Regions from separate parts of the Homo sapiens genome. Here region 2 is linked to region 1. Evidence: fine-mapped expression QTL. A gene starts in region 1. The other region holds a variant in brackets. All regions are shown on one strand. Distances are from middle to middle.

Region 1 (5,370 bases):
TAACCGCTTGCAGCACCCCAAGGAGAGAAATGTGTTGTGGAACTGGGGAAATTGAGGCCAGAGGAGATTCACTGACTAGCTATAAATGCAACATTTTCTTTGAGCCAAAGTTTGCTAGCTTTTTAATGAACATCGAGTTTTTTTATATACATCACAAGTCATCAAGCAAGAACACTGAATTTTAAACATCTATTCCCACTAAGGGAAGGAGGATTTTAAAAAGGAAAAAAAAAAAACTTGATTGGAGGCAAACCAAGTATATTAACACCGTGCAAGGAAACAGGGAAACTGGTTTAAATCCTCAAGCCTGACATTATAAGAGTAAGGGTAAGAAGTTTCATAATCTACTCCAGGGACTTTGTGGCTCCTTAATTGTACCAAAAGTCAAAGCTGACAGTAGAACCTCATGAAGCAGCAAACTACTAGTGGACTTCATTAAATTGTCTTGCTGCAAAATGAAGTAACTTGGACTGAAATTTACTCCCCAGGCTGCAAAGCAGGAAGGATGGAAAAGCTCAACACTATTCATTTCTACTCATCTCTAGGGCTTTCTTTCATCATGTTGCTGTGTTAAAATAACCCCTTTCATTAGAAAGAGTGGAAGACATAATCAATTAGAAAGTGCCAATAAAACATCTCTTCCTTGCCTCATTTCTTTAATAATATTGTAAAATGAAATGCGACAAAAAGGTTCTTTGACAATTGTGAATTTTTATTCCACTCAAAACATAATACTACATAAAGTTGTATTATGCTTTGCAAGAAATACTGGTTGTGGCCGGGCGCGGTGGCTCACGCCTGTAATTCCAGCACTTTGGAAGGTCTAGGCAGGCAGATAACGAGGTCAAGAGATCAAAACCATCCTGGCCAAAATGGTGAAACCCTGTCTCTACTAAAAATACAAAAATTAGCCAGGCTTGGTGGCACGCGCCTGTAGTCCCAGCTACTCAGGAGGATGAAGCAGGAGAAACGCTTGAACCCGGGAGGCGGAGGCTGCAGTGAGCCGAGATCGCGCCACTGCACTCCAGCCTGGGCGACATAGCCAGACTCCGTCTCTAAATAAATAAATAAATAAATAAATAAATAAAAATAATACTGGTTGTATAAGAATCTGTAAAGAATTTTTTCCTCCTCTTTCAATTTTGAGAAAATTGAACTACAAATTTGTTTTGTGAGCCTAGAATTCTTGCAACCCTTTTTTTCGTAAAGGTTCAGTAGAGCTAATGCCCTTAACTTTTCTACCAGGGTTAATTTCTGTTATTTTCATTTATGTACTGCCAAAGCGAGCACCTTTCTGTTATTTTAGAAGTCATGCTTTTTTTTTTTTTCTTTTTTCAGACAGAGTTTCGCTCCTGTTGCCCAGGCTGGAGTGCAGTGGCCTGATCTTGGCTCACCGCAACCTCCGCCTCCCGGGTTCAAGCGATTCTCTTGCCTCACCCTCCCGAGTAACTGGGATAACAGGCGCCCGCCACCACGCCCGGCTCATTTTCTGTATTTTTAGTACAGACGGGGTTTCACGATGTTGGTCAGGCTGGTCTCAAACTCCTGACCTCAGGTGATCCGTTCGCCTCGGCCTCCCAAAGTGCTGGGATTACAGGCGTGAGCCACCGCGCCTGGCCTAGAAGTCATTCTTATGGCAGAAATCTTTCTGGCCTTACCCCTTCTCTTGAGTTCGTTGGGATAGGTCTTGGGAATCCACAAATCCTAAAATATGCGTGCCTTAAGTCGGCACAAAATAGATTAATATTCTGCGCGTCTGTAAGATTGGCTGCGGCTAGAAACTCCTTCCCAGACGATTAAATCCACTAAATAAAATACGAAACGGTAACGAGATAATTTTTAAGAGTATGCACCAGTGCTCTAATGAAGCCCGGTTCTGCGGCATTCCAAGGTAAGGACGCTGCCTTACCCAGTCTCTCAGCAGTCCTAAGCTGCCTTCGACGGCCGAGAAGCGCCTCGATTCTTGCCCCTGGCTCATTTCCCTGGCGCGTTTTCCAGACGCCTCCGCTCCCAACGCTGGGCTCAACCCTGTCTTCCCCAGCTGGTCTCCCAGCACGTGGCCTGGAGCCCAGCCTCCCGCCCCGCTCGGTCACGTGAGCCTGGCTCTCACCCGCGCCGGCTTCCACACCCCGCGGGACTGAGAACCGCCCTCCCACTAGCTCGCAGGCGCAGGCGCAGGGCAGGGTCCCCTCAGTTTGGGTGACGGAAGGGGCGTGTCGCAGCGCCCAAAGATGACGTGTTCTGCCAGCGCCACGTCATGAGGAAGTGCCGGCCCACTGAAGCCGTGGGGACGCGCCCAGCGGAGCTAATCAGGTGCCACTGAACTGAAGGGGTGAACTAGAGGAGAAGAGGGTGACTGGGCGGGGAGCAGCTGCGGGAGAAGCAAAGGGACGACTGAGGGAATAATCAGGAGACCACTGAGGCGTGAAGTACTAGGCGTGCGATAACTGAAGGAGTTAGTAACTGGGAGCACAGAGTTGGAAACAGCTTAGGGGAAGATGGAGAAGGAAGAAACGGGGAATGATCAAGATGTGGGCACCATGATGTGGCAGGAAACCGACTTAGATGTTCAGAAGAAGTCAGTGCAGATACGGAGGAAATGGGAATGGGAAGAAGTCTGCAAAGCCAGGAGAACCGAGGAAAGGCTTTTGCCTCCAGAGGTCACATTGCGTTATAAAACTCTGGGTGGTAAAAGATTATAGGCTTAGACCAGTGTCTTTGGATTCTAATGCTGGCTGCTCTCCATAGTCCATCTGATTCCCCAGAAGTCAGTTATAGCTCTTCGCAAACCTTGGTGACTTCTTATTTTCTTTCTTGTTTATCCAAGATTACCTGGCTGGTGTTTGCTTGTTCTGGAGTGATCTTCTGACTGGAAAAGAACTATGTCATGGATCAAGGAAGGAGAGCTGTCACTTTGGGAGCGGTTCTGTGCCAACATCATAAAGGTGAGCAATGGCCCAGAGCACCGGTTGGCCTTCTGGTCAGTTGGATAATCTTATATAAAAACCTGTTATTAAAGTTGATGATGTTAAGTGCAATTCATGATGTTAAGTGGAATTTAGCAAGGAAACCAAAGAGTCTTAGAATGGTAACTTCCAGGTCTACATTTCTGGTAGACTTTTGTCCTAACTCTGATATTTTCTGGAAGCCCAGGCCTCTTAATGTCACTGGGCAGCCTAGACTGCTAAGTATTCTTTATAGAGAACTGAAATTTGTTTCCCTGGAACATTGATCCATTGTTCCATGTACTGTCTTCTTGATTTAAATAGGTTAATCTTTGATATATTCTTTGATCTGTCAGTAGAGCTGGGCCCGGTCACTCACGCCTGTAATCCCAGCAATTTGGGAGGCTGAGGTGGGCAGATTGTTTGAGCTCAGGAGTTGAGACCAGCCTGGGCAACATGGCAAAACCCCGATTCTCCAAAAAATTAAAAAAATAGCAGGGCTTGGTGGTGTGCACCTGTAGTCCCAGCTACTCGGAAGGCTGAAGTGGGAGAATTTCTTGAGCCCAGGTCAAAGCTGCAGTGAGTCATGATTGTGCCACCACACTCCAGCCTGGGTGACAGAACGGGACTGTCTCAAAAAAAAGAGTTCAGAACAAGACTCTGTCTCAAAAAAAAAAAAAAAAAAAGAGTTTGGGCTCTAGACGCAGACAAACATGGGTGAAATTCCTGTTCTTTTTTTTATTTTGAGATGGAGTCTCGCTCTGTCGCCCAGGCTGGAGTGCAATGGCGCAATCTTGGCTTACTGCAACCTTCATCTGCCAAGTTCAAGCAATTCTCTTGCCTTAGCCTCCCAAGTAGCTGGGGTTACAGGCATATGCTACCACACATGGCTAATTTTTATATTTTTAGTAGAGATGGGATTCTCATATTGGCCAGGCTGGTCTCGAACTCCTGACCTCAGGTGATCCACCTATCTCAGCCTCCCAAAGTGCTGGGATTATAGGACTGAGCCACTGCACCTGGCCTGAAAGTCCAGTTCTATCATTTAGTAATCATGTGACTTTAACAACTGTAGAATTATCATGAGAATTTATGAGACATTAATATAAAGCAGTTAGCATAATGTCTAGCAGTTCTTAATTATTATTAGGATTGTCTTTCAGACATTTGAAGACTATTATCTCCTATCTTCCCCAAATCTTCCCTCAGCTTTTTCTCTAGGAATCACAGCAATATTATATCTGCCTAAGACAGGTTTGAGATTGGGGCCAGTCAGCTTGGTTTTGTTTTTCAACCACAGGCTGTCAAGCAGCAGGTAGTAATGAATTTATGAGTCAGTAACCTTTATACAAGCCCCACACATGCTCACAAACAAATGCCAAGTGATCTCAAGCAGTCCAGGAAATGGGAAGTATCTCCTTGGGGAACCACTGCAGTGGTATGTTTGGAAGAACAAGCTGCATAACTTGAATGGATTTTGGGGGCTGGAAAGGCTGTATGTGAGACAGAAGTAGAAAAAGGAGAAGTGTTGATGAGGAAGCAGTCAGGGAAGAGCCCTCCCAGGTGAGGAAAAATAGGCTAAGGAGTCCATTTGTGTTATGGGAGACAACTCAAAGCTGCTCCAAGCCAAATAAGGGTTTTGTTTTTTGTGGTTTCTTTTTTGAGATGCAGTCTTACTCTGTTGCCCAGGCTAGAGTGCAGTGGTGCAGTCTTGGCTTACTGCAACCTCTGTCTCCTGGGTTCAAGCGATTCTCCCACCTCAGCCTCCCCAAGTAGCTGGGATTATAGGCACCGGCCACCATGCCTGGCTAATTTTTTTTTTTTTTTTTTTTAGTAGAGTTGGGGTTTCACCATGTTGGCCAGGCTGGTCTCGAACTCCTGGCCTCAAGTGATCTGCCCACCTCAGCCTCCTAAAGTACTGGGATTACAGGCTTGAGCCACCACGTCCGGCCCCAAGTAAGTTTTGTTTGGCTCAAAAAAAGTCTTTTTTGTTTGCTTTGAAAAACAATTTTTTTTTTTCAGACAGAGTCTCACTCTGTCGCCCAGGCTGGAGTGCAGTGGCACAATCTCAGCTCACTGTACCCTCTGCCTCCCCGGTTCAAACAATTCTCCTGCCTCAGCCTCCCGAGTAGCTGGGATTACAGGCGCTCGCCACCACGCCCGGCTAATTTTTCTTTATTTTTAGTAGAGACAGGGTTTCACCATTTTGGCCAGGCTGGTCTTAAACTCCTGACCTCGTGATCCACCCGCCTCGGCCTCCCAAAGTGCTGGGATTACAGGCATGAGCCACTGCGCCCGGCTGAAAAGCAAAATTTTAATAAAAATCCTGATGTTTGGTTTTCTTGCAAGATCACCAGATCCAGCAATGTTGTGCCCCAGTTCCTGTGTGTCAGCAGTTGGCTAGAGGTCAGGAATTAGTGCCTTT
Region 2 (5,370 bases), 140 kb after region 1:
CAGAGCTTTGGTTTTCTCCTCTGTAAAATGGAGCTAATAATTCCTGTCCACCCGCCGAGGTGCAGTGGATGGCTCCAGTGAGATCACGACTGGTAACATTCTTTGTAAACTGGAAGTTCACTTGTGCAGGGTAGTTGGTGTCCTCAGCCAAGCTGAGCATCCCTGACCTCTAGGTAGAGTCCACATTCCTGGGGGCCTGGCCTTGTGCTGTGGGCATACGATTGTGTTTGAAGGAGGGAGCCCACGGGACTTTCTCCAAGGCTTGGATACAGTGTGTTGCTGGGGCTACCCTAACAGTGTGGCCCTTTCCCCCTCATCTACCTGGCACTCTTCTCCCTATGGAGGTGGACTGTGCTGGGCCATGTCTACCTACTCCACGGGCTCCACGGGCATTGCTGGAGGGCTTGGAGATCAACTGAGACTATGAAAAGACTATCTGAATAAAACCAACTAACCTGCAAAACTCTACTAATCTAACCTGCAAGGTATCTGTCTCTGTGTTTCAGAGGTGTGATTTGTTCATTCATTGCACAAAGTTCACTTAGCATTTGCTCTGTGCTAGGCCCTGCACTGGGTGCTGAAGGTGAACGGGCATTCCACAGACATAGGGTTATGATCGTTACCGAAGGAGCCCCTGGTGGCCTGAGCTCAGGGCACCTGAGGGATGCAATGGACAGTGAGGCTGGAACAGATGATGGCTGTGCCTCCCATGTTAGGGTAGGGACTTTGGGCTTTATCTTGCAGGTAGGGAGCCTTTGAAGGTTTTTTGACAATGCCCAGGGAGGTTCCATTAGCTTAGGGGAGGAGGAGCAGGAAGATGAGAACATGAGGAGTTTAGTGTGGGATGTGTTGAGTTTGAGGCTCTGTGGAACATCCAGTGGTTGCCTTGTGGTAGGCAGTTGGATTTATGAGCCAAGACTCAGGAAAAGTTCTGGACTAGGGTTAGAGATCTGAGAGGTATTGGTAGTTGATAGTTAGAGGATTGACTATGAATGGAACTGTACAGGCCAGGCACAGTTACTCACACCTTTAATCCCAGCACTTTGAGAGGCCCAGGCAGGAGGATCACTTGAGCCCAGGGGTTCAAGAGCAGCCTGGGCAACATAGCGAGACCCTGTCTCTGCAAAAAATGTTTTAAAAATTAGCTGGGTATGGTGGCACATGCCTCTAGTCCCAGCTGCTTGCGAGGTCGAGGTGGGAGGATCACTTGAGCTCAGAGATTGAGGCTGCAGTGAGCCATGAATCATGCTGCTGTACTCCAGCCTGGGCAACACAGACCCTGTCTCAAAACAAAACAAAACAAAAAAGCCTTACAGAGTGTGGGGAGGAGAAGAATGAAATGTGGGGTGGTTCAGCCCCCTCAAGTTACAGATGAGCAAACAGGGCCCAGAGGAAAGCCGTTTGCTTATGGCCTCAGCAGTAAGTGTCATTCATCCATTCATTCAACAGATATTTATTGAATACCTGCCATGTACTAGGAGCTAGTTTAAGTGCTGGGATACAGCAGTGAGCAAAACACTCAGGGAGCTTACATGCCGGTGGGCAGACTCAGAAAACAAATTAAATATTATGTTAAGTAGTGGGAAGTGCTACAGATAAAAGTAAAGCAGTGTATTCTTTGATTTTAAAGATAAGGAAAATAGGGCCAGGCGTGGTGGCTCACGCCTGTAATCCCAGCACTTTGGGAGGCCGAGGCAGGCAGATCACTTGAGGTCAGGAGTTTGAGACCAGCCTGACCAACATGGTGAAACCCCATCTCTACTAAAAATACAAAAATCAGCCAGCCATGGCGGCGGGTGCCTGTAATCCCAGCTACTTGGGAGCTGAGGCAGGAGAATTGCTTGAACCCGGGAGGCGGAGGCTGCAGTGATCTGAGGTCGTGCCACTGCACTCCAGCCTGGGTGACAGAGGAAGACTCCATCTCAAAAAAAAAAGACTTTTAAGATTTTGACCTAAGTAACAGGAAGGATGGAGTTGCCACAAGGTAAGATTATGTGATGAGTAGGTTTTAGGGGAGAATTGAGAGTTCAGTTTTGACAGGTTAACTTAGAGCTACCTGTAGACACCTACACAGAGTCAGTAGCAGCAGCAATAAGACCATCATTTCAGCCCCTTCCCCTTCTCTCGGATGCCAAGTCCATGCACCCGTCCCTCTGCACCCTGTCTGTGTAGCTTTCTAATCTCTGGCCGCTGACCTGGGCCACTAGCCACCTCCCCACACTGAGAACTGACCCCAGCCCCCTGCCCCTAGGTTGTGCACAGGGACCTGAAGCCCAGCAACATCCTGTATGTGGACGAGTCCGGGAATCCCGAGTGCCTGCGCATCTGTGACTTTGGTTTTGCCAAACAGCTGCGGGCTGAGAATGGGCTCCTCATGACACCTTGCTACACAGCCAACTTTGTGGCGCCTGAGGTGAGTGGCCCAGCCTCCTCAGCTGTAAGAGTGAGGGGGA[A/G]TTGGAGGCCTTGTGCCCCCTCCCAGAGGCCCCACATTAGCCGGGACTCCAGTCTCTGTGACCTTGGCCCAGCTGGCAAGGGAAGATCTAGCCTGTGCCTGGGACCCTTGTCCTGCCCTTGAGGGGAGTAGCAGGAAACATCTGTGGCGACTTTCTACTGCCCCCCCAGACTGACCACCTCCCCTGCCCTGTTGCCAGGTGCTGAAGCGCCAGGGCTACGATGAAGGCTGCGACATCTGGAGCCTGGGCATTCTGCTGTACACCATGCTGGCAGGGTGAGTGCCCCTGGCCTGGACCCTTCCCCACTCCTGCAGCCCTAGCACTTGGGCTGAGTGGTGCTTGTCTGATAGGAATGGCTCAGCCAGCCCCGCCCCAGGATGGTCTGGAAATAGGGACATGCTCCTGCCTCCAGGAGCTCTACCTTGGGAGTACCCCATCTGAGGGGGAGACACAGTCTCCCACCGCAGCCCCAGCCCCAGTATGGAGGCCAGAGTCTGTACCCAGACCGTGCGGGCTTTTCTGCAGATATACTCCATTTGCCAACGGTCCCAGTGACACACCAGAGGAAATCCTAACCCGGATCGGCAGTGGGAAGTTTACCCTCAGTGGGGGAAATTGGAACACAGTTTCAGAGACAGCCAAGGTGAGTCTGTACGGCCTGCGTGGGCTTATTTGGAGGAGGGAGGCAGGGTCCCATCCTAGGGCTTTTCAGCAGTTCATGAACAGCCTCATTTCTCCAAGCGGATGTTCCACAAATCCCTGTTGCTGTATTTCTCCAAGCGGAAGATTCCCAGGCAGACCACCACCACCTCCGTACCTTGTTGGGGTAACCTGGTGATCATTCATTGGCCCTTCTCATTCTGGACCCTGTGGGGCACTGAGGGCTGCATCATCACAGTCCCGGCTTTGTGGAAACGTAGTGTAGTGAGGGATACAGGTTTGCACACAAGGGGCAGAGATGCCTGGAGGCACAGATAGGCGGACGCTCTTGGCCAGGGGTGTGGACCGTGGAGACACAGAGCAGAGCAACTGGCCATGCCAAGCAGAGCCTCCTCGGAGGAAGTAGCATGTGAGCTTTCAGTATTAGCAACAGTTTTTGGTCATTGGGAACCTGTATGCCAGACAGAGTTGAACCCTCTATGTACGGCCGGCCACCTCACATCAACCTGTGAGGCAGGGAGTGGTTATTCCTATTTCTCAGCAGGGAAACTGAGGCTCAGAGAGTTGAAGGAACTTGCCCAGGGCACTCATTTGATGAGTGCAGAAGGCAAGTTTTGAACCTGAATCTGTCTGAGCCCAAACCTGAGGCTTTTCCCACCTTCCCACATGGCTTTTTGAAGGCAAAGGAGAAATGGAAGGGTGTTCCAGGACGAAGGGCCTAGAGCAGCAAAGGCCCAGCGACAGGAACCTTGGCTGTGTGCGGGGAGCCCTGGAGCAGAGTGGAGAATGGATCCCAGGGGCTGCCGCAAGGGTTCAGGCGGGAGCTAGCAGGAGATGGTTGCCCTCCTGTGCCCCATCAGGGGCCTGCTCCCCTGCAGCCCTCCCCCAACCCCCTTGCCCACTGTGTCCCCAGGACCTGGTGTCCAAGATGCTACACGTGGATCCCCACCAGCGCCTCACAGCTAAGCAGGTTCTGCAGCATCCATGGGTCACCCAGAAAGACAAGCTTCCCCAAAGCCAGCTGTCCCACCAGGACCTACAGCTTGTGAAGGTATGGCCACCCTTGGGCTGCTGGGCATCTGGGGGGTCAGCCCAAGGTGGCATGGTCAGGGACTTGTGGAAGAGCCAGGCAATGCCATGTCTGTACCAAGCACCATGAGGTGGAACATAGGAGAAGAAGACACAGCCCTGCCGTCAGGGAGCCTAACATGCTACAGTGTCACGGTGCACTCACAGCCCCCAATCCTCTGGAAGGCACAGCTGCTGACCTCTGAACCCTCCAGTCTGATGGGGGAGGCAGGACCCATGACCATAAAGGACCACTGAGGCTGGATTAACAGTGGGCTAGGCTGGGCGCGGTGGCTCACACCTGTAATCCCAGCACTTTGGGAGGCTGAGGTGGGTGGATCACGAGGTCAGGAGTTCAAGACCAGCCTGACCAAGATGGTGAAACCCCATCTCTACTAAAAATACAAAAATTAGCCAGGTGTGGTGGCAAGCGCCTGTAATCCCAGCCATTTGGGAGGCTGAGACAGGAGAATCGCTTGAACCCTGGGGGCAGAGGTTGCAGTGAGCCAAGATTGTGCCATTGCGTTCCAGCCTGGGTGACAGAGTGAGACTGTATCTCAAAAAAAAAAAAACAACAAAAACAAAACCAAAAAAAGTGGGCTGTGGAACACTGAGAGGGGCTGGCCTACCCTTGGGGCATGGATCCCCTCCCCGCTACATCTCCCACCATTGTGACCTGACCTCCCCACTTCTCTTTCAGGGAGCCATGGCTGCCACGTACTCCGCACTCAACAGCTCCAAGCCCACCCCCCAGCTGAAGCCCATCGAGTCATCCATCCTGGCCCAGCGGCGAGTGAGGAAGTTGCCATCCACCACCCTGTGAGGCACCAGGGCATTCGGGCCACAGGGCGGTGCTAGCTTGACACAGTCAGCATGCTTCCCAGAGGGAGCAGGCCGGAACCACAGGGCCAGAGGGAGCTGGAACCCGAGGGGCCGGGGAAGCTGCCAGCCCAGAACACCCCTAATGAGGGTGTGAGAAGTGCCTTCTCCTTCCCCAGGATGGACTCTTCTCGGCTCAGGCTCTGCTGGTGGAAAGCGATTCACTGTATAAACTTTTTTTTATGAAAAAAATGGCATCAACCACCATGGATTTTTACAAGATCCATTTGCCTTTCTGGGAGCAGAAACAGCCATTGCGGCCCCAGGAGGGGAACTGAGTCACGCTGGGGCTCTCTGAGACTCTTTAGAG

Direction of the effects. Alleles are on the strand shown, and positions count from the first base shown. SD is a standard deviation of normalised expression in the study named.
For the expression in lung of the gene that starts at base 2,258 in region 1, allele A in region 2 goes with a higher level than allele G (small effect, 0.12 SD a copy in GTEx).

Evidence for each region. PIP is the estimated chance that this variant, and not a neighbour inherited with it, causes the effect. A credible set is the group of variants that fine-mapping cannot tell apart.
Region 2: its variant is the best candidate, but not a certain one, in a credible set for the expression of DHDDS in lung (GTEx, PIP 0.70).

The regions. Positions count from the first base shown.
Region 1 is chr1:26,430,064-26,435,433 of GRCh38, forward strand. DHDDS (dehydrodolichyl diphosphate synthase subunit) reads left to right here and starts at 2,258. Exons shown (of 9, transcript NM_205861.3): 1 at 2,258-2,313; 2 at 2,828-2,945. The coding sequence starts at 2,883. LOC124903883 (a long non-coding RNA gene) reads right to left here and starts at 2,174. Exons shown (of 2, transcript XR_007065557.1): 1 at 1,910-2,174; 2 at 692-1,055. RefSeq lists enhancers at 1-295, 1,477-2,013, 1,798-1,857, 1,928-1,987, 2,014-2,550 and 1 more.
Region 2 is chr1:26,569,198-26,574,567 of GRCh38, forward strand. RPS6KA1 (ribosomal protein S6 kinase A1) reads left to right here. Exons shown (of 22, transcript NM_002953.4): 18 at 2,252-2,413; 19 at 2,652-2,728; 20 at 2,979-3,096; 21 at 4,027-4,164; 22 at 4,882-5,370. The coding sequence ends at 5,004. Among named protein-coding and RNA genes, the nearest start is that of MIR1976, 17 kb to the left of the region's middle. The variant A/G (reference allele first, on the strand shown) is at 2,454.